Regions from separate parts of the Homo sapiens genome. Here region 2 is linked to region 1. The links come from fine-mapping of genetic effects on gene expression. A gene starts in region 1. The other region holds a variant in brackets. All regions are shown on one strand. Distances are between the middles of the regions.

Region 1 (15,581 bases):
TAACCTTAGACATGTTTAATCCTGTGTTGATGAGCGAGTAGCCAATTTCTGTGTCACAGTAAGCTTGAAGAACTAATGCGAGTTTTTAATAACTCCTCAGGAGAGTCCCAGCACATGGGGCTGTGCTTTCGGAGTCTTGATTAGGTCAGCAGGGGTCACATGAATTCCAGGCTTTCAAAGTTACACAGGCCGGAGCCTCCGGTCACCAGCTCTAGGGAAAGAGTGGGAAATGCATGCGCTCTGCTCACAAGCACAGTAGATGCCAGCCCGAAAGCCAAATAAACCTCCAGGAACCACGCAGGGATCACAGGGAAGGAAGAACGAAGAAACAGGTTCCAAGGCTGAGCACCACTCTGCTCCCTCCCAGGCAACACACGCACCCCACAGGCCCTGCCAGGATCGCCTCAGGGTCCAGGCTGCTGTGGACTACACAACAGCACCAACAGATTTTGTTGGCAGGAAAAAAGGCCCAATCCTGGAATGCCCACTATAGCCACAGGAAGTTTTCAAAGTACTCTGACCATTCCCCACACGTAAAACGTCCCCCCTGCTATTTCTCAGCCTGTAGGAAGAAGCTTAGAAGATCATTATAAAAGCAATAATCTGGCCGGATGCGGCGGCTCACGCCTGTAATCCCAACACTTTGGGAGGCCGAGGCAGGCAGATCACCTGAGGTCGGGAGTTCGAGACCAGCCTGGCCAACATGGAGAAACCCCACCTCTACTAATAATGCAAAATTAGCCGGGCGTGGTGGCACATGCCTGTAATCCCAGCTACTCAGGAGGCTGAGGCAGGAGAATCGCTCAAACCCGGGAGGCGAAGGTTGCAGTGAGCTGAGATTGTACCATTGCACTCCAGCCTGAGCAACAAAAGTGAAACTCCGTCTCAAAAAAAAAAAAAAGCAAGAATCCAATTCTCCAATTCTTATCGATGCCCTGAAACGTCCACTCCTCCCTTTATTAAGCGGAAAGGACCATGTCTACTGGGTAGATCCAGCTCCTATTTAAGAGGTGACAGACTTTACTGCTGAAGGGTAAAGTTTACATGTCATTGTGACTTCTAAGAATTCCGATGTTCCTAATGACTCATAAAGTCATATATTTTAGTCTGTTCTCAGTAAAAGTGTTCTCAACATTACAAATATAAAAAAGTAATGACAAATGCAAAAGTATCACAAATAAGAACAGAACCAAAATTCAACCCCAGCGGCAGCAGGACATCCGGTGTGGGTTAACGCCCGCCTCATCAGCACCTTTCCCTGGCTTGTTCTCCAGCTCTCGGAGGTGAGTACAGAAAGTGGACGCCTGGCGTCGGACTCACCTGAACTCTCTGCCTTCGCTGTACCGTCTACTGGAGGAGACCCTCGGGGCAGCTGTCTCCAGGAGCAGCTTCTGAGGGAGTCTTCCGGGGGGAGCAGCGTCTCTGCCATCGTCCTCATCCATGTCCTGGTCACACTTCCATTCCTCATCTTCATTTAAGGTCGGCAGGTATCCAGATATGCCCTTCCCTGTCCCTGACCCAGAGCTCTGGTCACTACAGACTTTGGGGCTCTCCGAGCCTGTCCTCGTATATTCCAAATAAATATCAGACTTAAGGAAGGAGGGATAGGTGTTTTCCTCCATAGTGGCCTGGATTTCGGTCTGGGCCTGGTCAAACATGGCAGGATCGATCAGCTGCTTCATGATGCAGCCCTTTATGAAGCTCTTGGTGGCTGGCTTGGTCTGCCGGGACACGATGCCATTGTTATCAAGAATGTACTTTCGGTAGATGGCTCTCGCCAGCTTCAGCCTCTTCTCCTCGTTCGAGTCACAGGGCTCCAGCTTCCTGAAGCCAGTGCAGGCAAACCAGAAGTCCAGCAAGTCGGCACAGCCCTCCTGCTTCAGGAAAGTCCTGAACAGGCTTATCCCATCTTGGTCATCCAGCAGGGAATGCAGTGACTCAGCCCACTTCAAGTATGGTGGGGTGGGGGAGGCACTGCCCTCAGGCTCATACCCCAGGTCCAGATCCGAGCGCCTCGGAGTGGCCGTCGAAGTCTCACCTTTAATGCCAACACCTTTCCCGGAGCAGAAACTGTAGCTGGCGGGCCTCGGGTCTGTGGACACCAGTTCTCCCTCCTCACCAGGCACTGGGGGTCGGGGAGCATCTTCGGTGAAACTTGCTCCGAGGTCCAAGGGGAAACCCTGCTCTTGGATATTCATTTTGGGACTCTGCGTCAAGGAACAATGAGCGCTGCACCCTAATACATCAGTACTTACAGCTCCAAAGTGAATCAATCTGTCCTGTTGAAACCATTAAGAGGACAAGGATTAGGAAAGGTGGGTCCATGAAACACGACCAGAGGTTTTCTCAAGACAAGACTCACGATGACGCCCTCCCGCTCAAACTCAAAGCAAGAAACTCAGTTTAAATGTTCAATCAAGATATATTTTGGCCACAAGCATAGTTCTACTTTAAAGCAATTTCTGGAAACTTTTACAACTACAGGAATGCCTCTCATGCTAAGAAGGGATGCCCAGGACATGGGAATGCCACTCCCCACAAGTCTCACTGCACAAACATCACGGAGGCTGGCAGCTTGAGCACCTCCCACCTCAGCTGCAGAGCTGAGGGACAGGGAAGGCAGGAAGACCGGAGGAAGGAAAGCTGCCTCTAGTCCTGACTATGTGTACAAACCTGAGTGAGGGCTGGACCCTCACAAGTAAGATGGAGACAATCGCTCCACCAGCCCCAGCAACACTCAGAGAGAAAGGAAGGTGCGCTACAGCCCCGAAGGTGGTGGGCGTCTTCTGAACCCCACGTCCTCCAGGCCCACGGCCACTGTTTTCTACCTGCTGCATCACGTCACGCGTGGTACACCTTCCGACACATGAGAACACACTGCAGGGTGTTCCTCCGACTCTCAACACACGCCTCAAAGAGAGATAATCATGGGTCACCTTCAGCCCCATCGACCGAGGGATCAAGGACACCACCCAGGCCCACAGAGGCGCTCGGACACCGTCACTGGAGACAATCTTAAAATGCTCTGTCAGAATGCTGCACTTGACTCTGAAAAGCCTCTCTGATGAGGATTCAGATAGCAAATAGTAAATGGGTACTTCAAGGAACAGAGAAGGTACAGAATAAAAGGAAATGCAAATACAATTTTTAGCTAAGGAAGCTATAGTTCATGTGACTTCACTCCTTAAGCTGAAAACCAAACCACCCACCCTCTTAGACATCAGGGAACTATAGAATTTGCTGCTACTACTGCTGCTGCTGCTACAAGCCTGCAAGGGGTGTGCAAAAGAGAGTAGATAAGGGCTCCAACAGAACCCCTGCCATGGTCTATGGTCCTTCCTGCCACGTCCTACAGGAGCCCAGGAGCTCTGGCTATGCCTGTCAACCCGGCCATGCAGGTGACTGAAACAACAGCCTGCCATGATGTAAGTGGTCCTGGCTAAAAGGGGCTGGAGAGAGGGCTTTAGAGAAGCATGTTGGGTTCAAAAGCCTAGAGTGCTGAACAAGTCACAGCAAACAAATAAAACCCTAAAACCCAGGACCAACTGAAGGGGGATCTATCCCCCAGCCACCACTCCACACTGCTGTCCCTTGTCTATGTGGAATCTGTCCCCCACACCAACTTCCTCACATTGCACACACTTTACCAGCCAACAGCTGCTCACGGCTGGAAGCACGAAGGATCCACAGAGCCAGGCGTGGTGTCACGCACCTGTAGTCCCAGCTACTCAGGAGGCTGAGGCTGGAGGATCCCTTGAGCCCAAGAGTTCAAGACTAACCTGGGCAACATAGTGAGACCCAATCTCTACCAAAAAACAGTTCTTAATTAGCCGGGTATGGTAGCGTATGCCTGTAGTCTCAGCTACTTGGAAGACTGAGGCAAGAGGATCACTTGACCCAGGAGTTCAAGGCTGCAGTGAGCTATAATCGCACCCCACTGCACTCCAGCCTGGGCAACAGAGCAAGATCCTGTCTCTAAAAAAAAAATAGGCCGGGCACAGTGGCTCACACCTGTAATCCCAGCACTTTGGGAAGCCAAGGCGGGCGGATCACGAGGTCAAGAGATCGAGACCATCCTGGCTAACACGGTGAAACCCCATCTCTACTAAAAATACAAAAAATTAGCCAGGCATGGTGGTGGGCACCTGCAGTCCCAGCTACTCGGGAGACTGACGTGGGAGAATGGCATGAACCCGGGAGGCAGAGCTTGCAGTGAGCCGACACCGCGCCGGCCACTGCACTCCAGCTTGGGCGACAGAGTGAGACTCTGTCTCAAAAAAATAAAATAAAATAAAATAAAATAAAATTAGTAAATAAATAAGAAGCACCCATAGATGGAGGATGGTTTGCAACTATGTGCCCCCAATGACATTTCAGCAGCTAAGGACTTTTTGTGAACGCTGCTGGGTAGTATGTCATCTTGGCCTCAGCAGGAACACACAGCTTCTAAAGGTCAAGGCCCAGTGAGCTGTGACATCCTGCTGCTCACAGACCACTTCAGCGGCAGTCACTCCGTGAGCCACATCAGCATGGAGGGAGCACCCTGGGCGTGGGCACCTCCACACTAGCTCACGGTCATCTGTCTGGGACGCCATCACAGGAAAGAAGGCCTGCACCCTGACCACCTGAGCCTTACCACTATAGATGTACTACCATTCACTAGCTTGAAGAACCAAGTCACCGGAGAGTGGAAAGTGATTAATCAGACAGTGCTCAGAAGGGAGGCTAACCACAAGTCACCATCATGCTCTCATAAGGGACTTAAGTCTTCTGTGTTAATTATTGGTAGTAGCGGGACCCACAGCACCCAGCACAAGGTCCTGCAACTAACGGGCACCAGTAAGTCATTCACTGATGTAAAAAAGAAAAGACATTTGTCACAGACGCCAAACACTGGCTCTCTACAGGGGCTGAACTACTGTACCACAGAAAACAGCAGCAAATTCTTCCAAAACTAATGGGTTTTGTTGTTTTGTTTTTTGTTATTTTGAGACAGGGTCTCGCTCTGTCGCCTAGGCTGGACTGCAGTGGGGCGATCTCAGCTCACTGCAGCCTCAGCTTCCCAGGCTCAAGCAATTCTCCAGCCTCAGCCTCTCAAGTGGCGGGGACTACAGGCACGAGTCATCAACGCCCGGCTAATTACTGTATTTTGGGTTTCACCACGTTGGCCAGGCTGGTCTCAAACTCCTGAGCTCAAAGCAATCCACCCGCCTCGGCCTCCCAAAGTGTTGGGATTACAGGCCACTTTGCCTGGCCCCAAAACTAATGTTTTAATTCATGTGTGAACCAAATTTTCAGAGCCCAGAAGAAAATTTTCTTACAATCATGTGTATTTTTGGCTGTCAACTGACAGAAGACTTTTTGGTGTCCCTGGAAGCACATGAACCCCTCTACAAGCTACTGATGTTGTTGAAACATGTCCCAATTCCTGAAATCTCTGGGTTCCCACAGGGAAGCACACCAAGCATTTAGTGTACACACAAGTACACACCACACATAAAGCAGTCACGTTTACTCAGTTCAGTATCAAATGCCTGCAAGCACTGAATCTGGCCCACAGCCTGTAGCTACCATCAATAAAGTGAGTCCATAAAACGGGCGGGATGCCTACAAGTATGATACTGTATTTAAAATTCCCTTTCGTCACCGCTTAGGCATATGCTCCAGGCATCATGGCAGCAAACTCAATGCTACCTACGTGTGTAGGTATTTATTTTACCCAAACGTAACTTTTGACATTTTGATTTACATGGAGGAGGCAAGTAACACAACACGACTCTGACATCTTCCCAGCTGTCCATTGATTTAACTCTTGAAGGTTCAGGGCTACTATTTCACATGTAATTTATTCCCCCATCACTGAAATTCTCAATGACCAATGTAATCCGAAAAAGTCTGCTTAGCTTTTCTGAAACTAGAAACCCAAGACAAGTCAACACCAGCTGAAAATCAAACAAAAACAGTCTGTTTTTCATGCTTTCCCATCCTTGTCCCTGAATGGAGATCTTAAAACTGAAACCAAAGCCAGGTGAGGTGGCTCACGCCTGTAATCCCAGCACTTTGGGAGGCCGAGGTGGGCGGATCACCTGAGGTCGGGAGTTCAAGACCATCCTGACCCACATACAGAAACCCCATCTCTACTAAAAATACAAAATTAGTCAGGCTTGGTGGCGCATGCCTATAATCCCAGCTACTTGGGAAGGCTGAGGCAGGAGAATCGCTTGAACCTGGGAGGCGGAGGATGCGGTGAGCGGAGATCACGCCATTGGACTCCAGCCTGGGCAACAAGAGCAAAACTCTGTCTCAAAAAAAAAAAAAAACTGAAACCGAGCTATTGCTGAGTATCTCGGGTAGCCGGTTTAGACTGTGTTTTCTCCAAAATAGGGCCTGTGGATCCAAGTAAGCTCGAGATTCTTCCTGAAGAAGCAGAGAACAGAAGTGTGAGCAAAAACAAGGGGCTGACATGCACATAAGAACCCTTTATAAATTATCTTAGAAGGGGCCAGGCGCGGTGGCTCACGCCTGTAATCCCAACACTTTGGTAGGCCAAAGTGGGCAGATCACCTGAGGTCAGGAGTTCCAGGCCAGCCTGGTCAACATGGTGAAACCCTGTCTCTACTAAAAATACAAAAATTAGCCGGATGTGGTGGCGCATGCCTGTTATCCCAGCTACTCAGGCGGCTGAGGCAGGAAAACTGCTTGAACCCGGGAGGCGGAGGTTGCAGTGAGCCAAGATAGCGCCACTGCACTCCAGCCTGGGCTACAGTGCGAGACTCCGTCTCAAAAAAAAAAAATTATCTTAGAGGACGGTGGTCACCCCTGTAGTCCCAACACCTTGGAAGGCTGAGGCAGGTGGATCGCTTGAGGCCAAGAATTCAACACCTGCTGGGCAATATAGTGACACCCCATCTCTACAAAAAATATATATATATATATCTTATAGATGGGCTGAGAAAAATCCCCAGAGAACTGACATGTTTTTCTCTACTTTCTTCAATGCCAAGCTGAAAGTTTCACTGCTCGGGCAGTGCAGCTCTGGTTTCACGGGGGCTAAATTCCAAAGTGCGGGGCGGGGGTAGAATCTAAGAACCACACCCAAGAGAAAGACCAGTGTTTGGGCAGCAAGGCATCAACCTGGAGGGTACGGACGCCGGAGCACGCGGCTACTCAGGCCGAACCCCGACCCGGACCCGGCACGCGGCCTCGGCGAGGGCGGGCGGGAGTGTCCTCCTCCGGGACAGCCGGACTCCCGCCGACTTCTGGGCGGCGGGGAGGGCTCCAGGCCCGGCTCTCCCGGGCCCCCGCACGCGATGCGCGGCCCCTGCAGCTGCTCCGTGCCCCGAGACGCGCCCGAGGCCTCGGACCTCCAAGCGGCCACCGCGCCGCCAGTCCCGCTGCCCAGGGACACCCCGGCCCCAGCTCCCCGCGCGCCCACCCCCTCGGTCCCACGCGCGTCAGCCACCCGCGCCCCCCGCCGCTTCCGGGTCCCGCCCGCCCGGCCTACCGCGGCCTAGCCCGCCCCGGAGCCCGGCCCTACTCACCCGCGCGCGGTGGTGGCGGGACCCCGGGCCCGGCTCCCGGAGCGGCGCGGCGCGGTCCGGGCCCATGCGCTCAGCGGCAGCGCGGCGGGCGGGACCCGGCGGGGGCGCGGCCCGGGGCGGCCCCCATCTCGGCGGCTGCGGCTCGGCGGCCCGGAGGCGGACGCGGGGCAGGCCGCGGGGGCGCCGCAGGGGCCCAGCCGCCAGCTCCCACCCGCCCGCTCCGCGTGGACGCGGCTCCGGGCCGACTCCGGCCGGCTCTGGCGGCGGCAGCGGCCACGATCGCCTCCCGAGCCAGAGCCCGAGCCAGAGCGCCGAAGCCCAGGCCCGAGCGCCCCCGCCGGCGGCGTCCGGAAGTGCGGGGGCGGGGCCGGGGCGCGGGGACGAGGTGAGAGCGCGGGGCGGGGCCTCAACACGGGGCGGGGCCGGCAGCGCGGGGACGAGGTAAAGGGTGTGGGGCGGGGCTTCAGGCGCGGGGCGGGGCTGAAAGCGCGAGGATAAAGTGAGGAGCGTGGGGCGGGGCCGACAGCGAGGGGACAGGTGAGGAGCGCGGGGCGGGGCCGGGGCGTGGGCGGGGCCGGAAGCGAGAAGACGAGGTGAAGAGCTCGGGGCGGGGCCTCGGGCGTGGGGCGGGGACCAGGGAGTAAGGCGGGGCCCGCCTCGAGCAGAAGAGGTAAAGAGCGTGGGGCGGGGCCTCCGGCGCGGGGCGGGGCCGGAAGCGAGAAGACGAGTTGAGAAACATGGGCCGGGGTCTCTGCATGGCCGGGAGAGGGCGTGGTCAGTGCCTGCCGGGGGCGGGGCGTGCCGGGGGCGCGGTCGCGCCGTCTTCCCGAGGGGCGGTGCGGAAGCGGAGCCCGGGAGGCTTTGGCTTCCCAGAGAGCGGAGTGGGAGAGGCGGCGTTGCAGGTCCTTGGAATGGCCGCGGCCGTGGGGAGCACTGGGCGGACTGCGCGCCCCGAAGGGCGCACGTGGGGCGCAGCCCTTTTCTGCCGCCAGTACATCGGAGGGCAGTCAGGGGGCTGCAGGCCTCGGGGCTCCCTGCCCAGCCGGCCCTGGAGAGGAGGCCCTCGTGGGGACCGCCACGGCCTGCCCGCCGCCGTGAGGGAAGCAGGCTCCCAGGAGTGGGGTGGTCGGCAGGCAGGGATGGCCAGGGCCCTTGGAAGGTGGGGTGGGCTCCACCCTCCTGAGTCCCAAGGCAGCCTGGACTCACAGCGCCAGGGAACACGTTAGGCCCCAATATATGGTGGCTCTCACCCGGACAGGAGCCACAACCTCCAAAGAGCCCACCGGCTAGGACCCTCTGCCTTGATTTCTCCCAGGCACCATCTAGTATCAGAGAAGGGTTCTCCTTCCCTCCGCTGCCCAGGCCAGCCCGAGAGCAAGGCCATTGGAGTGTCCAGACCCCTGCACCCCTTCCCCTGGGCTGTCTCCACAGCGGCCCTGCCAAGGGGTCCAGTCCGATCCTGCCACCCTGGCTGCCCAGATCCGTGTCACTTGCCCTGCAGGCCACAGAGCATGAGGTCACAGCCCCAGGCACCCCACGGCAGAGAGGCACGGGCCCCCAGCAGCAGCCCCAGCACCAGCTCTGGCCAGCCCAACCCTGTCAGAACCAACCCTCTGCTCTCCACCCAGGCCTCAGCCAACCATCAGGCCCTCCCCAAGGAGGAGGATGTGAGTACCAGGATCTGCCGCCTCCCACAACAGCCCAGGGCCCTGTCCTTCCCAGAGCACTATTGGGCCTGGCACCTCCCGGGATGCTCCAGGCAGCCCCCTGGGGTCAGCTATACCCCCGTTTCACAGAGGAGACAGCTGCAGTTCAGGCCACACAGGACCAGCTCGCCTCCTGTTGGGTGAGGGCTCCCCACCTCGTCCGCCCCACACCTGAGACAACAGCCCTCATCTATCTGCCCTCTGCTTTAGGCCTCCCAGGGCTCCCTGCTGCCCACAGCCCTTCAGGGCCCTTCCTAAGGGCGCCTCCCCCACACCTTCCCCTAGATGCGTCTGGCCACTTGCCCGCCTCCGTGCTTCCGTGTCCATCATGTCCATACCTGCCAGCTCCCTCCAGGCACCTCTCACGTCACCCCCATGTCTTTCCCTGGGCTGTGTCACCCTGGATGCCCAGCCTCACCCTTCAGAGCTCCCAGGCAAGCACAGAAGTCCCAGCTCCAGGCTCCCCGAGCTTCCAGCCTACCCCCAACCAGATGCCCACAGGTGGGACTGCATGGGGAACCATGTGTGGAAGCCTCCCAGCCCTCGCCCCTGCCAGCACTCAGCATGGTGTCTGATGCCAGCATCGCTGTGTGGGAAAGGGGGTAGCATGGGACAAGGGCCACTAGGCTGTCCCCAGCCTGCCAAGGGCCCAGGCCCACCTCCCAGGGCCATCACTGTGCTCAGAGCAGGTGGGCAGGGGCTGGGGATATGAACGAAGCTGCACTGTTAGACCAACACCTGGCCCCGCTGGGTCCTGGCCGCAGGCACCCTGCCAGGTCCCACAGTGCTGGACACTGGGGCCTCCCCGCAAGCCCCCTAGCCCATTCAGCCTCAGAACCTTAGAGGAGACAGAGTGGGTGGCCTCCATGGTAAAGCACAGTTTCCAGGGATGAGGGAGTCCTGGGTGGCCAGACAGACAGCAGGACCTCAGACACTGGCCCCTGGGCTGCCCCCCGACTCCCAACAAGGTCCCCAATGCTTGCCTTGGTTCTGCAGAGCTGCTGCTGTGTCCGGGCCAGGCTCTCGGGGCTGTGTCCACGTCCATCCTCCTCTTGGCCCTCGGTGGCAGGTGTCCCCAGGCCCTGGGACCAGAACAAGGCCCTTGGGCCTCCAGCTCCTCGGGGCCCCTGCCCTGCAGGGACAGGAAGGGGGTCAGAAAGCCTGGAGGAAATGCAGCAGCCCTTCTAAAGTAGGTTGTGGTGTGGGTGTGGAGGGGAGATTCTCTGAGCCTAGTGGGGGTAGGAGGAGACCAGAGGCAGGCCAGGCAGAAGAGAGGTAGAGGAAGGCCCTGAGGAGGGGCAGGGAGGCGCGCGGGGGCCTGTGGTGTGCAGGGTGAGGTTCAGCCACCTCCCTTCCTCACAGAGCTCCTTGAAGAGGCAAACGCCCTTTGCTTCGAGCGTGAGTTTGCCACGAAGGCTTTTATTTGATTGACCGTAGATGACATTTAATCAGGTTTTGTTTCTAGGCACCAAATGAGACACTTAAGAGCAGACATGGAATTATTTTCTTCAATGTAGACATAAAAGGTATGTTTTTTTGTTTGTTGGTTTTTGGAGACGGAGTTTCATTCTGTTGCCCAGGCTGGAGCCCAGTGGCGTGATTTTGGCTCACTGCAGCCTCCACCTACCATGCTCAAGTGATCTTCCCACCTCAGCCTCCCGAGTAACTGGGATTACAGGCGTGTGCCACCACACCCCACTAATTGTTTGTATTTTTGCTAGAGACAGGGTTTCATCATGTTGCCCAGGCCGGTCTCTAACTCCTGAGCTCAAGGGATCCACCTGCGTTGGCCTCCCGAAGTGCTGGGATTACGGGCCCAAGCCACCATGCCCAGCCTAAAAGGAATACCTTGAAAATAAAGTGGCTGGCCCGGAGCGGTGGCTCACGCCTGTAATCCCAGCACTTTGGGAGGCCGATGCAGGTGGATCACGAAGTAAGGAGTTCGAGACCAGCCTGACCAACATGGTGAAACCCCATCTCTACTAAAAATAGAAAAATTAGCCAGGCGTGGTGGCGCACACCTGTAGTCCCAGCTACTCAGGAGGCTGAGGCAGGATAATTGCTTGAACCTGGGAGGCAGAGGTTGCAGTGAGCTGAGATCGCCCCATTGCACTCCAGCCTGGGTGACAGAGCGAGACTCTGTCTCAAAAAAATAAAAATAAAGAAAAGGCCAGGCACGGTGGCTCACACCCGTAGTCCTAGCAGTTCGGGAGGCCAAGGCCAGAGGATCACTTAAGCTTAGGAGTTCAAGACCAGTCTGGGCAACATAGTGAGACCTTGTCTCTACTAAACAATTTTTAAAAACTAGCTGGGCGTGGTGTTGCGCACCTATGGTCTCAGCTACTCGGGAGCGCGAGGCAGGTGGATCACTTGAACCCAGCGGTTGGAGGCTTTAGTGAGCTGTGATTGAGCCACTACACGTCAGCCTGGGCAACAGAGTAAGACCGTGTCTCCAAGAAATAAAAATTAAGAAAATAATAAAGTGAGTTTTGATGCCTTAAGTGTGTTTATCCATTTAACTGAGGAAGACCACTTATAAAAAATGACCCAAAGGAAACCCTGGAAGACACCCCAAGGACATTAGCTGGGGAGTGTTTGCCGCTGTACGATGTGTGATGGAGACAGCCAGCTGCAGAGATGGACACTGTGCAGCCACCGACCCTGCATCAGTGTAAGGGGAGCGGGGGAAGAGGACGGACGGTTCTGATCCAGGGTTCTGGAGGCTGAGGGAAGCCTTGGGTTCAGCCTCTTCCAGTCTGCCCCTTCTCTGCCCCCTCCGCTCAGTCCATAGGTGTGAGAGGTGGGAGTGGGCAGGCAGGGGAGGCCGCTGGAGGGGAGGGAGGCCCCTCGAGGGGGAGGGAGGCCTTGGACCATCCCGTTCAGGCGAGGGAGGACTGCACTTTCCATCGCAGGCAGAGCCCCCACCACCCTCCACCGCCTTCCAGGCTGTAAGGCGAGCCCCAGCTCTCATCCCTGAGCCTTCTTTTTCCATCAGTTCTGAGCCCACAGGAGAGGCCAGATGCTGCCTGTGCCCCCATCCCAAGCCCGACAGAGAACAAGGAGCTACAACACCCCAGAGACATGCCGCCAGGCCACGCACACAGGGCACCACTTTTCCTGAAAATAGAAAATGTGGGCGGGGCGCAGTGGCTCACACCTGTAATCCCAGCACTTTGGGAGGCTGAGGCGGGAGGATCACTTGAAGTCAGCGGTTTAAGATTAGCCTGGGCAACAATGCAAGACCCTTTCCCTATAGAAGCATTGTTTTTAATTAGCCAGGCATGGTGGCGTGCACCTGTGGTCCCAGGTACACGGAGACAAGAGGATGGCTTGAGCCCGAGTGGTCAAGGCTGCAGTGAGCTGAGATGGTGCCACTCCACTCCAGTCTGGGTGAGAGAAAGACCTGACACTGGGCCAGGCGTGGTGGCTCACGCCTGTAATCCCAGCACTTTGGGAGGTCAAGGCAGGCAGATCGCCTGAGGCTGGGAGTTCGAGACCAGCCTGACCAACATGGAGAAACCCCATCTCTACTAAAAATACAAAATTAGCCAGGCGTGGTGGCGCATGCCCGTAATCCCAGCTACTTGGGACACTGAGGCAGGAGAATCGCTTGAACCCGGGAGGCGGACGTTGCAGTGAGCTGAGATCGCGCCACAGCACTCCAGCCTGGGCGACAGAGCGAGACTCTATCTCAAAAAAAAAAAAAGGGCAAGAAGACTCAAAACAGTCCACGTGTTATTAGTGGAAGCAGAAGCATGAAGTTCCATTTTCTTCTTTGCATGTTCAGGAATGTCTACAGGGATGTAACAGTTATGGTCCCGTGGAACGGTCTGTGTAAGTTAACCCACTGAAGGAGACGGGCATCACGGCTGAGGCCCTGAGGGGTGGAACTGACCACTGGGCAGTGTGTGTCCAGCAGGGTGATGGTCACGGCTGATGGCAGCCACATCGCCCCACGGTGGCCTGGGGCCTGGCATGGAGGTTCTGCCACCTTCCTGAGAGACACACCCTGCCAGGGGCTTCCTGGGCCATCCCAGCTGTTGGTGTCACTTTGGGCTGGGGCCTCCCCGGCCTCCACATCTGGCAGCCCCCTTAGCACTGATGTGCCCCTAGATAGGTCCTTCCTCCTCTCCCCCTCACACCTGTCGGGCAGGTGTGTCATCCAACTATGTTGCAACACGCTTCCTATTTGGAGTGGTCCACATAGCTCTGTAGCCAAAGCTGCCTCCGCAGGGCAGATGCCCCAGGAGTGATCCTGGTCCCCACAAAAGGCAGAGGCCTGGGGGAAGGGGAGCAGGGCCCTACCTCATATGCCCTGGCTCCAATATCAGGTCAGTGTGACTGTCACCATGGCCATGGATGACCTGACGGCCTCTGCCCCCGGGACCCACCATTGGCTGGGCACCTGTGGTCAGGAGGACCCACCCACAGAGAGGTGGAGGGTGAACCACTCAGCCGCTGCGGGGCAGGGGCCCAAAGAAACGGGTGCTGTGTGTGGCCAGGCTCGGTGGCTCACACCTGTAATCCCAGCACTTTGGGAGGCTGAGGCGGGTGGATCACCTGAGGTCAAGAGTTCGAGACCAGCCTGGCCAACATGGTGAAACCCCGTCTCTACTAAAAATACAAAAATTAGGCCAGGCACAGTGGTTCACGCCTGTAATTTTAGCACTTTGGGAGGCCAAGGTGGGCGTATCACCTCAGGTCAGGAGCTCGAGACCAGCCTGGCCAACGTGGTGAAACCCCATCTCTACTAAAAATGCAAAAAATTAGCCAGGTATGGTGGCAGGCCCCTGTAATCTCGGCTACTGGGGAGGTTGGGGCAGGAGAATCACTTGAACCCAGGAGACAGAGGTTGCAGTGAGCCAAGATTGTGCCAAGGCACTCCAGCCTGGGCAACAGAGTGAGACTCCATCTCAAAAAAAAAAAAAAAAAAGAAAAAGAAATGAAACGGCTGCTGTGGCCACAGTGCTTGGTCCCCGCTGGCTCCGGGTCCATACTTGTCCCCTGGGGCAGGCCCCAGACCTGCCGTCACCCACGTCGCCTGCGCCCAGCCCCGTCCAGCAGACCTGACAGTCCCCACATCCCCGCTGGCCTCCAGGGGTCAAGGGTCAGGACGCCAAGGCCAACAGGAAAGCACTGGCAACAGGGCGGGGGCCTGGCCAGCCAGGCGGCCCAGAGGCGGTCCCCTCCATCCCAGGGTACTGTCCACACCTCCCAGTGTCCTGAGGGGAGTCCTCCTGCACTGCCTTTCTGAAGAGTTCTGACCCCAGGGTGTCCAGGGGCTGGGACTGGGGCCAGGTGGATACCAGGATGTGGTCAAGTAGGCCTGCCTGGAGGGTCCGGCCGCAGGGGCTGGGGAAGTAGGAGGGGAGGGCGGCCACCACTTCCCAACTCGGGAGCTGCTGACATCAGGGGACTGTTGGGCCTGGCCTGGCACCTGCCTCCCAGGAGACCTGAGTGCCCATCCTTGTCTTGGGCCAGCCTGTAGCCCTAGGCAAAGCAGGCACCTCCTTGTGCCAGTGTCCCCCTGGGCAAAGTGATCGTCCTGACCTGGCCTCACAGCCCCAGAGGTCCGTGTGTGACCCTCTCTGACAGGCCGGGTGGCGGGATGGAGCCCACGGCTGGCCATGGACCAGGTCTGGTGTCCCAGGCACATTGTGAGCACAGGGCAGGGCCTGCTGGCCTCCCCCAACCTCAGTGCTGTTTTCCCAAAAAGAGGTGGCATCCAAGTGCAGGGGCCATGCCCCGAGGGGCCTCGCGCTGACTTCGGGAAGTAGCAGGTGACGTCCCACCTCCCTGGGCAGCCTCAGGCCGCTTCCTGTCCTTGTTGGGGGGACTCCTGCCCCTGCCACACCGACCACAGTCCTTGTCCCTGCTGTTCCCTCACCTGAACGCCCTTCCCTGCCCTGACGGCCTCCATCCCACACGCCTCTCCGGGCGCTGCCGCCCCCCCGTTGGTGCTCATCTGTCCTTCTGCCCACTATCCCCAGCGGCCCCGATACCTGCACACCCCAGTGCCCAGCGGTTCCCCCTCGAGCTGGCAAGGGGACATTAAATGGGAGGTGAGGAAGTGCGGCCCCCAGCGGGCAGCTGCCTTTGCCCCGGCCCACCTGCGCCCCCGCCCACCTGTGCCCTCCGCCGCCTCCCTCTGCTTGGCTGTCCCAAGATGTCTCTCTCCACTGCCTAGGAACCCTGAGGCCGCGGCCAAGTTCTGAGCGTGTGACTGTGTGTGCTGGGCCCCAGGCCCCTTTGTCGCCGCGGCGTCTGTCGTGGCAAACAAAAGTGAACCGGATTAGCCACAGTGGATTAAAAGATTTACGTCTCAGAGTTTACC
Region 2 (15,581 bases), 69 kb before region 1:
CTGAGGCCCTCGTGGGTGAAGGCGAAGTGGGACGGGGGAGGGTGTGGGCCGGGGGCCGAGGGGGGATGTGAGGGGATGGAGCTCAGCTGGAGCAGGGGGTGGTCTCTGGGAGAGGCAGAGGGGCTCATCAGCGAGGGGGGGTTACTATGGGGAGGGTCTCAGGGAGGGCAGCGGAGGGGATGGGGGTTCAGAGAGGGAGAGGGGTTCCGTGAGTAGAGGAGACCCGTAGGGAGAGTGAACTGGGGTGGGAAACGTGGTTTAGGGCCCACTGTAACCCCGGTCCTATGTGTGGGGCCCTGAGGACATACAGGGACTAGAGGCCTGGCTGTGGGGCCGGGGCCAGGGCCAGCGGTATGACTGCCCGAGGCCTTGTGTCCTGCGATGCTTGTGGCCAAGACTGCATACATTGCTGTGACGGTGGCTGGTTAGGGGCAGGGTGCATGAGAGATTGGGTCAGCTTTCTACATGGGCCGGATGCCGGCTGTCAGTGGAGCACGTGGCTGCTGCAGAGTGTGACCCAGCTGTCCCCATCTCCTGCTGTGGGTCCCTTATCCGGGGTCCTTCCGGGAAAGTGGCTGATGGCTCATGGCTCACTTCCCTCAGCTCCACGCAGGCCTGGGTGGCCCGCTGGGGAATGAGCAGAAACCCTGCCCAGGGCACCCTGACACTGTTGGAGAGGAGCTTTACTGCAGGGAGGCCCTCAACACACACCCACTTAGTGTCACCGGCGGCCGCCAGGCTTCAGGCCCCACTCCACTCCCAGCTCTCTCCCTCCTCCAATGGCTATGCCTGTCCCCCAGGTGCACCCCGAGCCAGGCCCAGGATCTTCAGGCCCCACCGGGCAGTCTCGGCTCACTGCAACCTCCGCCTCCTGAATTCAAGCAATTCTCATGCCTCAGCCTCCTGAGTAGCTGGGATTACAGGCTCCCACCACCACGCCTGGCTAATTTTTATTTTTGTTTTTGTTTTTGAGACGGAGTCTCACTGTGTCACCCAAGCTGGAGTGCAGTGATGCGGTCTTGGCTCACTGCAGCCTCCGCCTCCTGGGTTCCAGCGATTCTCCTGTCTCAGCCTCCTAGGTAGCTGGGATTACAGGCACGCGCCACCACACCCAGCTAATTTTTGTATTTTTAGTAGAGATAGGGATTCACCACGTTGGCCAGGCTGGTTTCGAACTCCTGACCTCAGGTGATGTGCCTGCCTTGGCCTCCCAAAGTGCTAGGCTTATAGGTGTGAGCCACTGTGCCTGGCCGATTTTGGTATGTTTAGTAGAGATGGGGTTTCACCATGTTGGCCAGGCTGGTCTCAAACTCCTGACTTCAGGTGATCCACCTGCCTTGGCCTCCCAAAGTTCTGGGATGACAGGTGTGAGCCACCACACCCGGTCGGATCATTTTTTAAAAACTAAGTCGAGGTCTCACTATGTTGCCCAAGGTGGTCACAAACTCCTGGGCTCAGTCCATCCTCCTGCCTCAGCTTCCCAGCGTGCTGGGATTAAAGGCATGCCCAGCCAGCATCTTTTTTTTTTTTTTTTTTTTGAGACTGAGTCTTGCTCTGTCAGGCTGGAGTGCAATGGCGCAATCTCGTCTCACTGCAACCTCCTCCTCCCAGATTCAAGCAATTCTCCTGCCTCAGCCTCCTGAGTAGCTGAGATTACAGGCCCCCGCCACCACGCTTGGCTAATTTTTGTATTTTTAGTAGAGACAGCATTTCACCTTGTTGGCCAGGCTGGTCTTGAACTCCTGACCTTAGGCGATCTGCCCACCTCGGCCTCCCGAAGTGCTGGGATTACAGGCCTGAGCCACCGAGCCCAGCCTCAGCACCATTTTTAAAAGGTGCAAATGCATCTATTTCTGCTTGCTTTCTTTATTTTTTAAATTATTTATTTATTTATTTTGAGATGGAGTTTCACTCTTGTTGCCTAGGCTGGAGTGCAATGGTGCAATCTCGGGTCACTGCAACCTCCGCCTCCTGGGTTCAAGCGATTCTCTTGCCTCAGCTCCCAAGTAGGTGGGATCAGAGGCATGCGCCACCATGCCCGGCTAATTTTTTTTTTTGTTTTTTTTTTTGCATTTTTAGTAGAGATGGGGTTTCACCGTGTTGGCCAGGCTGGTATCAAACTTCCTGACCTCAAGTGATCCACCTGCCTTGGCCTCCCAAAGTGCTGGGATTACAGGCATGAGCCACCGCACCTGGCCACTAATTTTTTTTTTAATTTCATTTTTATTTTTGTAGATAAATATACACGTAGCCCCTCGCTTATCCCTGTCTGTAAGGGCCTCAGTTTCTTGCTGTGTTGCCTAGGCTGGCTGATCTTGAACTCCTGGCCTCAAGTGATCCTCCTGCCTCAGCCTCCCAAATGTTGGGATTACAGGCATGAGCCATGGCACCTGGCTATGTATTTATTTTTTGAGAGATGGCAGTCTCATTCTGTCACCCAGGCTGGAGTGCAGTGGTGCAATCATAAACTCATTGCAGCCTCAAACTCCTGAGCTCAAGTGATTCTCCCACCCCAGCGTCCTGAGTAGCTGGGACTACAGATGTGTACCACCGCATCTGGTCTATTTCTGCTTTCTTGGAGGCAGAGTACCTCTCCCCATCCTTACCCACTCAGAGGGTGCTAGGGGCTGGGCAGGGTGGGCGGTTGGCCTTGGGCTGGGAGCCCCTAACATAGTGGTCTGAGTCCATTTCCATTGCCGGAGAGGCCACGTTCAGCATGAGCTGGGGCAGGGGGCTTGTGGGGTCTCTTACTCCAGGGTACCATCTCGCTTGGATCCCAGTGAGCCCTCCCATGCCCCACACCCAGGTGGGGTGAGGTGGCCCAGGTCTGGCTGCCCTGTCTGCAGGGGTGGGCACCCATGGTAGCTGTGAGGCAGAATAGGGAATGAGGGTAGCCAAGGGTTGGGCATAAGAAACGGAACAGCAGGTGCAGCCAGTTCTAGGCAGGATTGGGCAGCTCACAAGCCACATCCTGGCTGCTGTGATAACAAGACAGAAATTTCCACTTCACCTCTGATTGGTCTCGGGCCAATCCTTCATAGGGTGTAGCCAATTGGAGGCCTCTAAAGGGCACAAGGGCTGTGGTCAGGTTTCTTTGCTTAATAAAAATCCTAATTACAGAGGCTCTGGAGCTACTTGCTCCAGCCCACTCCCACTCTGTGAATTGCCTTCCGTTAAATCTGTGCTTTCCTTACTCCGTTCTTCTGACTCAGTTTTGTTTCCTTGTGTTTCGTTGTTCTTTTGTTACTTTGTGCGTTTTGTTCAATTCTTTGTTCAACCCACCAAGAACCTGGACAACTCACCTCCAAGACCTTCTATCTGGTAACAGCTGCAGGAGCTGGAGCTGTGGGCCTGGGGACAAGTGTCCTAACAGCCCCCGCTCCCTGCAGCGAAGGGTCAGCAGAGGTGGCGCTCTAGGGGGGCCTGGGCACAAGTTCATAGGATCCTGCCCTGGAAAGGTTGTGGGCAGTTGGGGGGCAAGGGAGACAGTCCCCACCCAAACCCCAATGCCCCCTAGCACCCAAGGTGGTCTTCTCTCAATTGAGGAGCTCTTTGGCAAGGGCGGGTCTAATTTCTGGTGTCCCTGGAACCGGCCAGGGGTGTCTAAGAAAGGGACTCAGGCTGGTGTTCGGACCCCTTCTCCCTTATCCAGACGCAGGCCTTTGGTCCAGCTGTCCCAGCCAGGGCCTGCTCACCCCTGTCCCCTGCCGGGTCCCATCCCCCCCACCCACCCACAGGTCTCAGTTTAGGTGTCAATATCAGAAGCCCCCTCTGTGCTCCGGTCTCTGTACTCCGCCCCCTTGTCAGTGTCCTCTCCCTGAGGACAGGGGGCTCGGTAACTGGGTTTCCAAGAGCCCTGCAGGGACACCCCCTCTTGGGAACTCACACAGCGCAGCCAGGTCGCTAAGCCTTTGAGGGGCCCTTGTTGCCTCCTGGGTGTGCGTGCGACCCGCGCCCACTGTGGTCCCGCCCTACTGATGACCGTGAACCTGTAGGGTGTTGGGCCAGCCCCTCACCCCAAGGCTGGGCAGGCCCCCGGAGTCCCCCTCGGCCCAGACAGAAGCTCCCTCAGGAGCGGGGGAGGGGAAGGGGGCGCGCGGTCCGGCCCCAGGTGTGGCCGCGGATAATGAGACCCTGGGGATGGGGGCGCACCTGCGCCACGGCGCCCCGCAGAGGGTTTCCCAGGAGACCCCCTCGGGCTCCCGCCGCGCCGTGGGGGTGGGGCAGCCCTGCTGGCCAGAGCCGGGCACGGGCCGGGCGGGCGGCGGGGATCGTGACCGCGGCTGCGTGCGTCCGCGTCCGGGCGCTTCTGTGCGGGGTCCTGGCACGCCGGCGGGGGCGACCCGGGTGCCGGCCCGTGCGGGCGACACGCGCGTCTCTGCGGGGCTGCGCGGGGTCCGGAGCGGCTGGGGGCTCTCTGCCGGGCGCGGCTGGGCGCGGGGGGCGCTCCCGGCCGGGATGAGCTCACCGCAGTCGCGCCGGGGCTGAGCGCCGAGCGGGGCGGCGGCGGGGCGGGCGGCGGCTCCTCGGCGGCTCCGCGGCGCCCGGGCCGCGCGCCGCCATGCTGGGCCTGGACGCGTGCGAGCTGGGGGCGCAGCTGCTGGAGCTGCTCCGGCTGGCGCTGTGCGCCCGAGGTGAGCGGGCCGGGCAGGGGCGGGGGGCTCGGCTGGTCTCAGCCCCGGGCGGGGAGTAGCCCCTCCCCCGCGGCAACTTTGGGGGCGCGCATGGGGACCTCGCGGCGCCGACCCCCCGGCTGGGGTCTGGCAGGGGTGGGGGACTTCATCCAGGCTCCAGCCCTGTGGGGAAGGGACCAGGTGCGGACGGGTCGGCTTGGGAAGCGGCGGCGCTGGGACCCTCTCCCCCTGGACACCGCCGCCTGGAGCCCCTCTGTCTTGGGTGGGGCTGGGGCTGGGGCTCAGGCTCTGTAGGGCGTGTGGTGATCCCCGAGAAGACGGGAGCGAAGTGGGCAGGGACTCAGAAACCCCTGCCCAGGGCACCAGGGAGAGGGGCTTCAGGAGGCCACCAGCCCGGGGCGCCATGGGAGGCGGCGCAGAGCCTGAGCCCAGGGATTTGGAGACAGCCGCCCCCGGCACCCGAGCACCATGGGGAGGAACTCCTAGACTGTGGGAAAGTGTTCAGAGACCCCAGTCCAGAGCAGGGTGGTGGAGGGCCCTAGAGGGTCAGTAGGCTTGGGGGGCCGCCGAGGGCCCTAGAGGGTCAGTAGGTTTGGGGGCCGCCGAGGGCCCTAGAGGGTCAGTAGGTTTGGGGGCCGCCGAGGGCCGCTGCTCTCTAGCAGGTAGCCCCTGACCCTGGGCTGCCCTCATCTGAAGTCTTCGCTCCCCCGCCCTTTGGTCTCCGAGTCAGGGAGGGGGCCCTTGTGGACATCTGGGCCAGAGGAGCTGCAGGCCTGGCGGTCTCTGGAGGCCCCTCCTGAAGGTCTGGGTGCGGTGCGGCACCTCCCCAGGCCGCCCTGCTCTCTCTGCTCGCTCTCTCCCTGAGCCCCCAGAGGCTTCCCTTGAGTCCCTTTGGATAGTGGGAGGTACAGCTGGCCAGAGGGGGCTCCAGCCTGGTGCTCGAATGCCAGGGTCCGCTAGTGGCTGCTGCTCACGCCCCTCCCCACCCCCAGTCCTCCTGGCTGACAAGGAGGGTGGGCCGCCGGCAGTGGACGAGGTGTTGGATGAGGCTGTGCCCGAGTACCGGGCGCCGGGGAGGAAGAGCCTCTTGGAGATCCGGCAGCTGGACCCGGACGACAGGAGCCTGGCCAAGTACAAGCGGGTGCTGCTGGGGCCCCTGCCACCGGCCGTGGGTATGGCAGGGGTCTAGGCTTGGAGGGCTGGGTCTGGGGGGCTGGTGAGGAGCCTGGTGGGGGTGGGGGGCATCCTGCAGACTTCCAGTTTCTCCTCAGACCCAAGCCTGCCCAATGTGCAGGTGACCAGGCTGACACTCCTGTCGGAACAGGCTCCGGGGCCCGTCGTCATGGATCTCACAGGTAACTCGCAGGATGCTGCACCCTGAACACAGGTAGGGCCCTCCCAGGCACGCTTCTGCACCCCTGAGTTCCGAGCCCTGGGCCATCACAGTCGCACACCTCATGGGTACCACACCCTACGTGGGGGCTCCTGGAGCAGGTCTCAGCCTGTAGGGGAGTTCCGACCCTAGCTGAGGTTTCCCCAATAGGGGACCTGGCTGTTCTGAAGGACCAGGTGTTTGTCCTGAAGGAAGGTGTTGATTACAGAGTGAAGATCTCCTTCAAGGTGAGAGCCGGGGCAATGGGCGGAGGGGATGGGGGTGGGGGCAACAGCCAGAGGCCTGGCCCCCAGAGGAACCCCTAATGCCTCTGTTCCCAGGTCCACAGGGAGATTGTCAGCGGCCTCAAGTGTCTGCACCACACCTACCGCCGGGGCCTGCGCGGTGAGGGCAGCGGTGGGGGGAACGGGGCGGGGGGGGGAAGCGGGGGCAGACAGAGGACAGCTCTGATGCCCTCGCCCTCCCTAGTGGACAAGACCGTCTACATGGTGGGCAGCTATGGCCCGAGCGCCCAGGAGTATGAGTTTGTGACTCCGGTGGAGGAAGCGCCGAGGGGTGCGCTGGTGCGGGGCCCCTATCTGGTGGTGTCCCTCTTCACCGACGATGACAGGACGCACCACCTGTCCTGGGAGTGGGGTCTCTGCATCTGCCAGGACTGGAAGGACTGAACCCCCAGTCCGTGTCTCCCCTACCTCCCTCAGTTGTTGCACAGGGACCCCCAAGCATCCCCAGCACCCCCCGTGAGTGACCAGACCCTCCCCTGCTGCCCCTGCTGCCCCTGCTGCCCCTGCTCTGTCCCGGGACCCCCTGGCCTGGCGCTGTCCCCTGAGCTGTCCCATTAAACATGGCCCTGTCTCTCTCGGTGCCCTGGGTGTCGTCTCTTTCTGCCTCCCCTCCCCTGGGGGCCGGGGGCGGCCGCATGGGCCTTGTCTTTGCTGGGACTGGGCCTGTGTGCCACGTGGCAGCTGCTGCTTGGCTTCTGGCCCCCTTATCTGCCCCCGCCCCACGCGCCCTGGCAGCACCATGAGCCGCCAGCTTCTGCCTGTACTGCTGCTGCTGCTGCTCAGGGCTTCGTGCCCATGGGGTCAGGAACAGGGAGCGAGGAGCCCCTCGGAGGAGCCTCCAGAGGAGGAAATCCCCAAGGAGGATGGGATCTTGGTGCTGAGCCGCCACACCCTGGGCCTGGCCCTGCGGGAGCACCCTGCCCTGCTGGTGGAATTCTGTGAGTGCTGGGGCCAGTGGGGCTGGGGACCGGCGGGGGACCGGCAGAGCCCACCTGGGGGCCCCACCCTTTGCCGGCAAATGCAGGGCATGTGCCCAAGAGGGGCCTCCCCGCAGGCACTTGCCCCCACTGTGCCCAGGAGCTCTCTAGGAGGGGCCTGGGGGTCTGGTTGGGGCAGGCAGGAGCAGTGTGGTAGTACTGGGGGTACCCACAGGACTTGAGAACACCTGTGCCTCCCTGCTCGGCCAGCGGCCACGGTGCCAGAGTCACCACCTTGCCGGCCACTCCTCCAGCTGCCAGGGGCATCCCACAGACTCTGCAGAGGCTCGGGCAGTATCCAGGCTTTGGGGGCCCATGGAGGTCCCTGACGTGTGTGCCCTGTGGTCTTTTCGCAACCCTTGACACACATAGGAACTGTTCTTGCCTAGGAGGCCTTCACAGGCAGCCACATGGGCCCGGGAGCCCCAGCCATACAAGGCACGAAAGGGAGGGGTCTTTTTATTTTTATTTTTTGAGATGGAGTTTTGCTTTTGTCGCCCAGGCTGGAGTGCAGTGGCCCTATCTCGGCTCACTGCAACCTCCGCCTCCCAGGTTCAAGCAATTCTCCTGCCTCAGCCTCCCGAGTAGCTGGGATTATAGGCATACGCAACCAATCCCGGCTAATATTTTTTGTATTTTTAGTAGAGATGGGGTTTCTCCATGTTGGTCAGGCTGGTCTCGAACTCCCAACCTCAGGTGATATGCCCGCCTCTGCCTCCCAAAGTGCTGGGATTACTGGCGTGAGCCACTGAGCCTGGCTGTGGGGGGAGGGGGGGTGGTCTTTCAAGCTCTCCCAAGCCTTACTGGTCCCTGTGCTGCAGCCTGGGGGGCCACGAAGAGGCACTGGTGCTCGGCTTGTCCACGGCCAGGGCTCAGGGCAGAATGGAGCAGCACGCTTGTTCCCTGCTGGGTTGTCAGGTGTGGAGAGGGTGCTCCTGGGGTTGTGGTGGCCTGGGGCACTCACGGCCCCATCCCCCAGATGCCCCGTGGTGTGGGCACTGCCAGGCCCTGGCCCCCGAGTACAGCAAGGCAGCTGCCGTGCTCGCGGCCGAGTCAATGGTGGTCACGCTGGCCAAGGTGGATGGGCCCGCGCAGCGCGAGCTGGCTGAGGAGTTTGGTGTGACGGAGTACCCTACGCTCAAGTTCTTCCGCAATGGGAACCGCACGCACCCGGAGGAGTACACAGGTGAGGGGCAGGCCGGTCATTGGGGGGGCGGTGGCCAGGCCGAGGCTGAGGGGGACTCCCTGCAGGACCACGGGACGCTGAGGGCATTGCCGAGTGGCTGCGACGGCGGGTGGGGCCCAGTGCCATGCGGCTGGAGGACGAGGCGGCCGCCCAGGCGCTGATCGGTGGCCGGGACCTAGTGGTCATTGGCTTCTTCCAGGTGAGCCACTGGGCATGGGGGGCCGGGCCATGAGGGCAGTGACTGTGGGTGGGACCGGGTGGCCTCACAGGGCCAGGCCCCTCAGGACCTGCAGGACGAGGACGTGGCCACCTTCTTGGCCTTGGCCCAGGACGCCCTGGACATGACCTTTGGCCTCACAGACCGGCCGCGGCTCTTTCAGCAGTTTGGCCTCACCAAGGACACTGTGGTTCTCTTCAAGAAGGTAGGTCAGGCCCAGGTGTGGGTTGGGGTCCGGCTGCAGCGCCCGCTAACCCACCTGCTGCTGTCCAGTTTGATGAGGGGCGGGCAGACTTCCCCGTGGACGAGGAGCTTGGCCTGGACCTGGGGGATCTGTCGCGCTTCCTGGTCACACACAGCATGCGCCTGGTCACGGAGTTCAACAGCCAGGTGCGTAGGCTGCAGTGCCTGGGCTGGGGGTGTCCCAGGGTAGAGTCGTCCAGGGATGGGGGTGCCTAGGCTGGGGGTCCTGTGGAGTCATGAGCACCCTCCCTACTGTAGACGTCTGCCAAGATCTTCGCGGCCAGGATCCTCAACCACCTGCTGCTGTTTGTCAACCAGACGCTGGCTGCGCACCGGGAGCTCCTAGCGGGCTTTGGGGAGGCAGCTCCCCGCTTCCGGGGGCAGGTACTGGGGGGCTGGGGGAAAGGGGCAGCGGGAGAGTGGCCGGTGCCAGCATGGACTCCCTGCCACAGGTGCTGTTCGTGGTGGTGGACGTGGCGGCCGACAATGAGCACGTGCTGCAGTACTTTGGACTCAAGGCTGAGGCAGCCCCCACTCTGCGCTTGGTCAACCTTGAAACCACTAAGAAGTATGCGCCTGTGGATGGGGGCCCTGTCACCGCAGCGTCCATCACTGCTTTCTGCCATGCAGTCCTCAACGGCCAAGTCAAGGTCCGCTGCAGACTGCTCATAATGGAAGGGGAACCCTGACCTCATCCCACCAGCTTGGCAGGGGGTGGGAACAGCAGCTCTCAGAGCCCCCTGCCCCTGCAGGCCCCGCAGAGGCCCCCCTCAACCCGGCAATTCTCCCAACCCGGCGGTTCTCCCAACCCCAACCCGGCGGTTCTCCCAACCCCAAACCCGCGGTTCTCCCAACCCCAACCCCGCGGTTCTCCCAACCCCAACCCCAACCCCAACCCCAACCCCGCGGTTCTCCCAACCCCGCGGTTCTCCCAACCCCGCGGTTCTCCCAACCCCAACCCCGCGGTTCTCCAACCCCGCGGTTCTCCCAACCCCAACCTCAACCCCAACCCCACAGAGGTCCCTCCCCCCACCAAACCCCACAGTTCTCCCTCCCCCCACTAAACCCCACAGTTCTCCCAAACTTGAAGAGGACCTCCCTGTCAGGCCCTGCAGAGGATCTCCCCCCCACCTGCCCCCGGCCCCGCACAGGACCTCCCCCCCACCGCCCCCCCCACACAGAACCTCCCCCTGCCGCTGACCCCGCACAGGACCTCCCCCCCACCCCCCAGGCCCTGCACAGGACCTCCTGAACCCTGCAGAGGACCCCTGGCAAAGCGCCTGTCCTGGTTTCCCCCAGCCCTATCTCCTGAGCCAGGAGATACCCCCTGATTGGGATCAGCGGCCAGTTAAGACCCTCGTGGGCAAGAATTTTGAGCAGGTGGCTTTTGACGAAACCAAGAATGTGTTTGTCAAGTTCTGTGAGTGTTGAGGGAGGCAGGGGTGGTGTGGGCTGGGCAGGGGCTGCCCAGATGGCTGTGCTCAACGGCTCCCATCCTAGATGCCCCGTGGTGCACCCACTGCAAGGAGATGGCCCCTGCCTGGGAGGCATTGGCTGAGAAGTACCAAGACCACGAGGACATCATCATTGCTGAGCTGGATGCCACGGCCAACGAGCTGGATGCCTTCGCTGTGCACGGCTTCCCTACTCTCAAGTACTTCCCAGCAGGGCCAGGTCGGAAGGTATGGCGGACAGGTGGCTGGGGAGGAAGCCGGGGTGCCATCTTGCTGGGCATGGGGCTGGGCCCCACGTGTCCTCCAGATCCCCCTGCCTCTTCTCAGGTGATTGAATACAAAAGCACCAGGGACCTGGAGACTTTCTCCAAGTTCCTGGACAACGGGGGCGTGCTGCCCACGGAGGAGCCCCCGGAGGAGCCAGCAGCCCCGTTCCCGGTGGGTGTCCCTAAGCCAGGGCTCCAGGCCTCTGCACAAATCCTCTTTACACAGGGCTGGCAGGGGCGGGGGCAGGGGTAGGCTGGGAGCAGAGCTTCGAGCTGCACTTGTGACCCTTTCTAGGAGCCACCGGCCAACTCCACTATGGGGTCCAAGGAGGAACTGTAGCTGCCCCCGTGTCACCCCCGCCATCACTGCTGGACAGGAGCCACCCCCTTGGGTACCAGAGGGAGCTGTGCATTGTGAATAAAGAGTGAGCTTGGTTCTGGACTCTGTGTGCCTGGTCCCTCAGCAAGGCTGGCCTGATGCAGCTCTGCCCAGCTGGGGGCTCCAGGGCAGGAAGGTGGAGCACGTTCCTGCTCTAGCCCTGCCAGCCTCTGAGTCACAGGTGATCCCCATGCCTGCTGGAGGCCAGTGTGCCCTCCTTTACCACGGGGGCTGAGGCTGGGAGACCTAGGCCAGGCCCCACCCGCAGAAGACACACCACAGCCAGGGCAGGTTCAAAAACAGTTTTATTTCATTATTATCCAAGTACCTTTGAAAAGATAATTAATTGTACAAGTGTCATCGCATGAAAAACAGACTCGGGCAGCCCCTGCTGGCCTAGCCTGAGAAATGTACATATTTACACGGGCCCTCAGAAAGGAGGACCCAGGACTGCACAGCC[G/A]GCGGCTGGAGGCAGGTGCAGTGCTCCGTCGCCGATTCACACAGTGGCAGGCAAGAGACAAGCTGTGTTGAAGGCACTCGGTGGCGCGTACAATTGACAGAGGCCCTGCAGGCCTCTGCATCCGGGCCTGGGCCCCACCCAGACCTGGGTACGTGGGCAAATCCCAGAGGGAAAGTAGATCCCAGCACACGTGCCCAAGGGAGGTGCCGGGGGATGGGGGGGGGTCACCTGAAGCTGGCAGCAGGGACCTCGGCTGCCTCACTTGGGCTGGGCCCTCCAAGTATTGCTATGAGGAGTGGTCCAGGCTGCCTCCTTGGGGGCAGGACAGAAGCTTGTGGACCACTTGGAGGGACCCCCTACCTGCCTCTAGACACGGGTAGACCACAGGGATGGGTGGTACACCCAACACTGTTCCCCATCGGGCTCCTGAGTACGAGGTCATCTGCCTGGCCGTGACACCCGTGCCCGCCAAGGGCCTCGCCTGGCACAGCGGCCAGCCCACCAGCCTATCAGTCCACCTTCTCCACTTTGCCGATGATCTTCTCCTCAAAGACGGGCAGGACGGCCTCGTCCTCTCGAACCTCCTCAAACACCACCCCACAGTCAAACTCGTCGCTCACTTTCTTGAAGTAGTATCTGCAGGACGGAGGTGAGGAGGGCAGTGAGCAGGCAGCACCGCAGATGGGAAGGAGGCCTGTGGCAGGGGACGGCGTGTCCACACCCCATCCCGAGGAGCCTCCTGTCCATGCCCCACGGCCCCCACTGCATGTGCGCCCCCTCCCAGGGCAACAGTGAACAGTGCAATGACCACATGTGGGTGAAGTGGGCAGCCATGGGGGGTGAGTTCACTGCCTGCTGGGAGCACCCCACATCCCCCTGGGAGTACCTGCCCCAGCCTCTCAGGAGTTGCAGGGGGGAAGTGGACGGGTGTGGGGTGTCTGCTTCCCAAGGGCTGAGCCCCGTCATGGAGGTGACCCCAACTGGGGCCCTCCCTCAGCACCACATCTGCAGTCATGGGGTGTTTGCACAGTGGCTTGTGGACGGTGGGAACCACCCGCCAGGCTCTGCCAGGCTCTTGGGGTCAGGCCCCCTCTGCTCACCGCCCAGTGCTCACTCGGGAGCCTCCAAGGCTGGCTGCACGCAGGGCCCTGCAGGGCTGAGTGGCCCAGGGCGAATGAACCTTGGTAGGAGGGGGCTTGGCTTTTCAGTCAGGCAAAAGCACATGAGTCCAGAGCCTGGAGACAAGGTCGGCCTAGGGGAGCCTAACACAAGGTTCAGACCATCGTCGTCTAGGGGTCTGGCCTCTGTTTTCCCACCCCGAAGATGAGGGCCCTGGACGGGGGTCCCTTTGGACCCTCTCAGTCCTGTGGGGCCGAAAGCCTGATGCCACCCTCAGCCTAGGGCTTGGAGAAGTGGCTTTAGTTGCAGATGAGGGACATGAGCTGAAATGGCCGGAAGCCCTTTTTCTTCTTTTTTTTTTTTTGGGCGGGGGTAGAGACAGAGTCTCGCTCTGTCACCCAGGCTGGAGAGCAGTGGCGTGATCTCAGCTCACTGCAACCTCTGCCTCCCGAGTTCAAGCAATTCTGCCTCAGCCTCCCAAGTAGCACACCTGGCTAATTTCTTTAGTATTTTTAGTAGAGACGGGGTTTCACCATGTTGCCCAGGCTGGTCTCGAACTGCTGAGCTGAGGCAATCCGCCCACCTCAGCCTCCCAAAGTGCCAGGATTAGGACGTGAGCCACTGTGCCCGGCTGGAAACCCTCTTTTTCATACCGTTGGGCACCCACATACTCGTGCGGGGAGGGGGCACCCCAGCCCTCACACTCACCTGTAGCTGCCCTTTTTGGTCAGCAGCTCCTTGAACTGGCCCAGGGTGACAGCGCGGCCCCTCACCAGGGTGCGGTAGGGGATGGGTTCCCCGCAGAAGTAGTACGCCACAACGATGCTGTCACACGGCTGGGCACTCCCGCCGCCCACCTTCCTCTGCGATCTTGTCCTGGGGAAAGAGATGCAGCGGTGGTACCTGGTTTTGGACTGAGGTCCCACAGGGTCCCTCCTGCTGGCCTCAGGCTGCCAGTGTAAGGCGGGGCAGGCCTGCAGGGGTGAGCAGCACCCCATTCAAACACCTGGGGCCCGCAGCCCCCGCACAGCATCTCAATCTGGGATCTAGTCCGCTAGCAGTGGAGTCGGCTCCGCTCACTGGGAGCACGAAGGTCTCCCTGCTGCCTCACAGCCCCACCCTCGACTGGCCAGGGCCTGGCTGCCAGGTGCACTGCAGCTCCCACCTCTAGGATGGCAGGGCAGGCTGCAGGGCTCCTATCTCAGGAAGACCTACGGCCCCCAAACCTTAAAAACATCTGAAGGGCAGGGATTGGACAAACAGAACTGTGCACGATTTCTGGATAAGCCTGACCCCGCAGCGAAGTTTGTCGGAGGACTGGGGCGGGGGTGGCCAGCAGGCCCTTCAGAGGGGGCAGGGCTGGCACCGTCTCCTGCCCAGGCTGAGCCGGGCCCTCCTCTGACAGGTGCTGTGCTTCCACAGCCGTGCCGGGATGACGGGCGGGGCCTGGTTGCTCTCGCACCCCCCACTCGGCTACCCCGCCGCCACCTGTCCTTCAAGTGACTCCAGAAGCTGCCCCTGGCCCACTGGGGTTCAGCCCTTGGGCCTCCTCCTGGCTGGGTGCACCAGAGGCTTCCAGAGCCAACACCAGGGCAGGAAGGCCTCATGGCCACCTGAGCCATGTGACCATCCTCTTTGCACACCAGGCCCCCAGCCACGTGCGCTCTTAGACGTCCTCCCAGTGCCACATCCTCGGAGCCTCCTGGAGCCAGGCCCATCAGAGAAGAGCCAACACGTGGGGGCTGCCCCAGGGACAGGTGAAGGCTGCCCCAAGACCGCCTACACGATGAGGGCCACAACAAACCTGCATCTGGGGCAAGCCTGGCAAGGCCTGGGGGACCCTTGTTCTCAAGGCCCCTTTTGGGGTGTGCCCCCTCCTCCTGCCACCTTGAGCACATAAAGGCGCCGTCGACACGGCCCATGTGGGATCACATGGTCTGAGCCCTTTCTCACGGGTTCAGAGCAGTCAGCATTGTAGGTGGGAGCAGAGCCCCGACTCACTGACTGCACGGGCTGGACAGACACGCATGGCTGAGACCCACACTGCAAGCAGACGCACCCCGGGCACCTCAGCACCTGCAGCCCCGAGCCTGGTCAAGTCAGGCCTGGCAGGGACCGGCCCGTTCCAAGCCGGGTGGAGGCGCAGGCAGGTCTCTGCCCCACAGGAAGCCTGGCCGTGACACCTGTGTGGATGCAGGGGCTGGCTGTGCCCAGGCCTCCAGCCGGGCCTTTTGGTCACTTGTCATCATGCTGGACAGTCAGCGTCTCCTTTGATGGAGACAGGAGAAGGCTCTCGGGCAGCTTCGAGTCTGATGCCACGGGACCCTCTCCTGCCACAGCTGCTTCTGAGCGTGGTACCCGAGCTCAAGCCCCGGGACGGCGGCTCTACGATGGGACCTGGCTTGGGACGCCAGGGCTGGGGTGGGCAGGACCGGGAGGACCCTCAGGACGCACGTACTCTGTCTCGGAGAGCTCCATGTCCGACACGGCTGGTACCACGTGCAGCACCGGCGCGCACGCTGGCCTGACGCAGGCGCGTCCCCGCCGCATAACCTCCTGCACATACCTAGGGAACAACCCGCGTCAAAGGTGGCTGTGCCGGCGGCCACCAGCCCTGGGGAGGGAGCCTCGACCAATGCTGCTGCGCAGGGACGGACGGAGCGTGAAGGGCCCGAACAACCCACCCTGCGCAGGCTCCAGTTTGCAGGGTAGACAAGACACCGAGTCCCCTCCTAGGCCTGCCTTGGTGGTACCCGATACTGCAGCGCGCCCCACATTCATGATCCCGGCACCAACCCCCTGAGTTCCCTGGACCGCACTTTGGGGAGCTTCCGATCAGGGGTGCTGGGATCCCACCACCTCATCCCCTCTGGTGGGATGACATCTCGTCCCGAGAGTCTGTCCTTCAGTCTCTTGGCATGAATTCCCCACCGATAGCGTGGACACTGGCTCTGGGGCGTGCGTGGCAA

Evidence for each region. PIP is the estimated chance that this variant, and not a neighbour inherited with it, causes the effect.
Region 2: its variant is fine-mapped to the expression of AXIN1 in whole blood (TOPMed, PIP above 0.99).

What each region holds. Positions count from the first base shown.
Region 1 is chr16:344,828-360,408 of GRCh38, forward strand. It overlaps AXIN1 (axin 1), which reads right to left and starts at 7,896. Exons shown (of 11, transcript NM_003502.4): 1 at 7,542-7,896; 2 at 1,321-2,279. The coding sequence starts at 2,198. RefSeq lists an enhancer at 4,402-4,681 and silencers at 7,115-7,174, 7,185-7,254, 7,275-7,324, 7,605-7,684, 7,785-8,264 and 1 more.
Region 2 is chr16:276,120-291,700 of GRCh38, forward strand. It overlaps ARHGDIG (Rho GDP dissociation inhibitor gamma), which reads left to right and starts at 4,472. Exons shown (of 6, transcript NM_001176.4): 1 at 4,472-4,634; 2 at 5,627-5,806; 3 at 5,906-5,989; 4 at 6,178-6,254; 5 at 6,348-6,411; 6 at 6,496-6,891. The coding sequence starts at 4,562. The coding sequence ends at 6,695. It overlaps PDIA2 (protein disulfide isomerase family A member 2), which reads left to right and starts at 7,045. Exons shown (of 11, transcript NM_006849.4): 1 at 7,045-7,249; 2 at 8,268-8,474; 3 at 8,540-8,673; 4 at 8,759-8,896; 5 at 8,965-9,081; 6 at 9,193-9,318; 7 at 9,387-9,584; 8 at 10,234-10,354; 9 at 10,435-10,616; 10 at 10,716-10,826; 11 at 10,950-11,096. The coding sequence starts at 7,051. The coding sequence ends at 10,994. It overlaps AXIN1 (axin 1), which reads right to left. Exons shown (of 11, transcript NM_003502.4): 9 at 15,071-15,178; 10 at 13,321-13,488; 11 at 11,321-12,129. The coding sequence ends at 12,003. RefSeq lists an enhancer at 4,613-5,370. The variant G/A (reference allele first, on the strand shown) is at 11,494.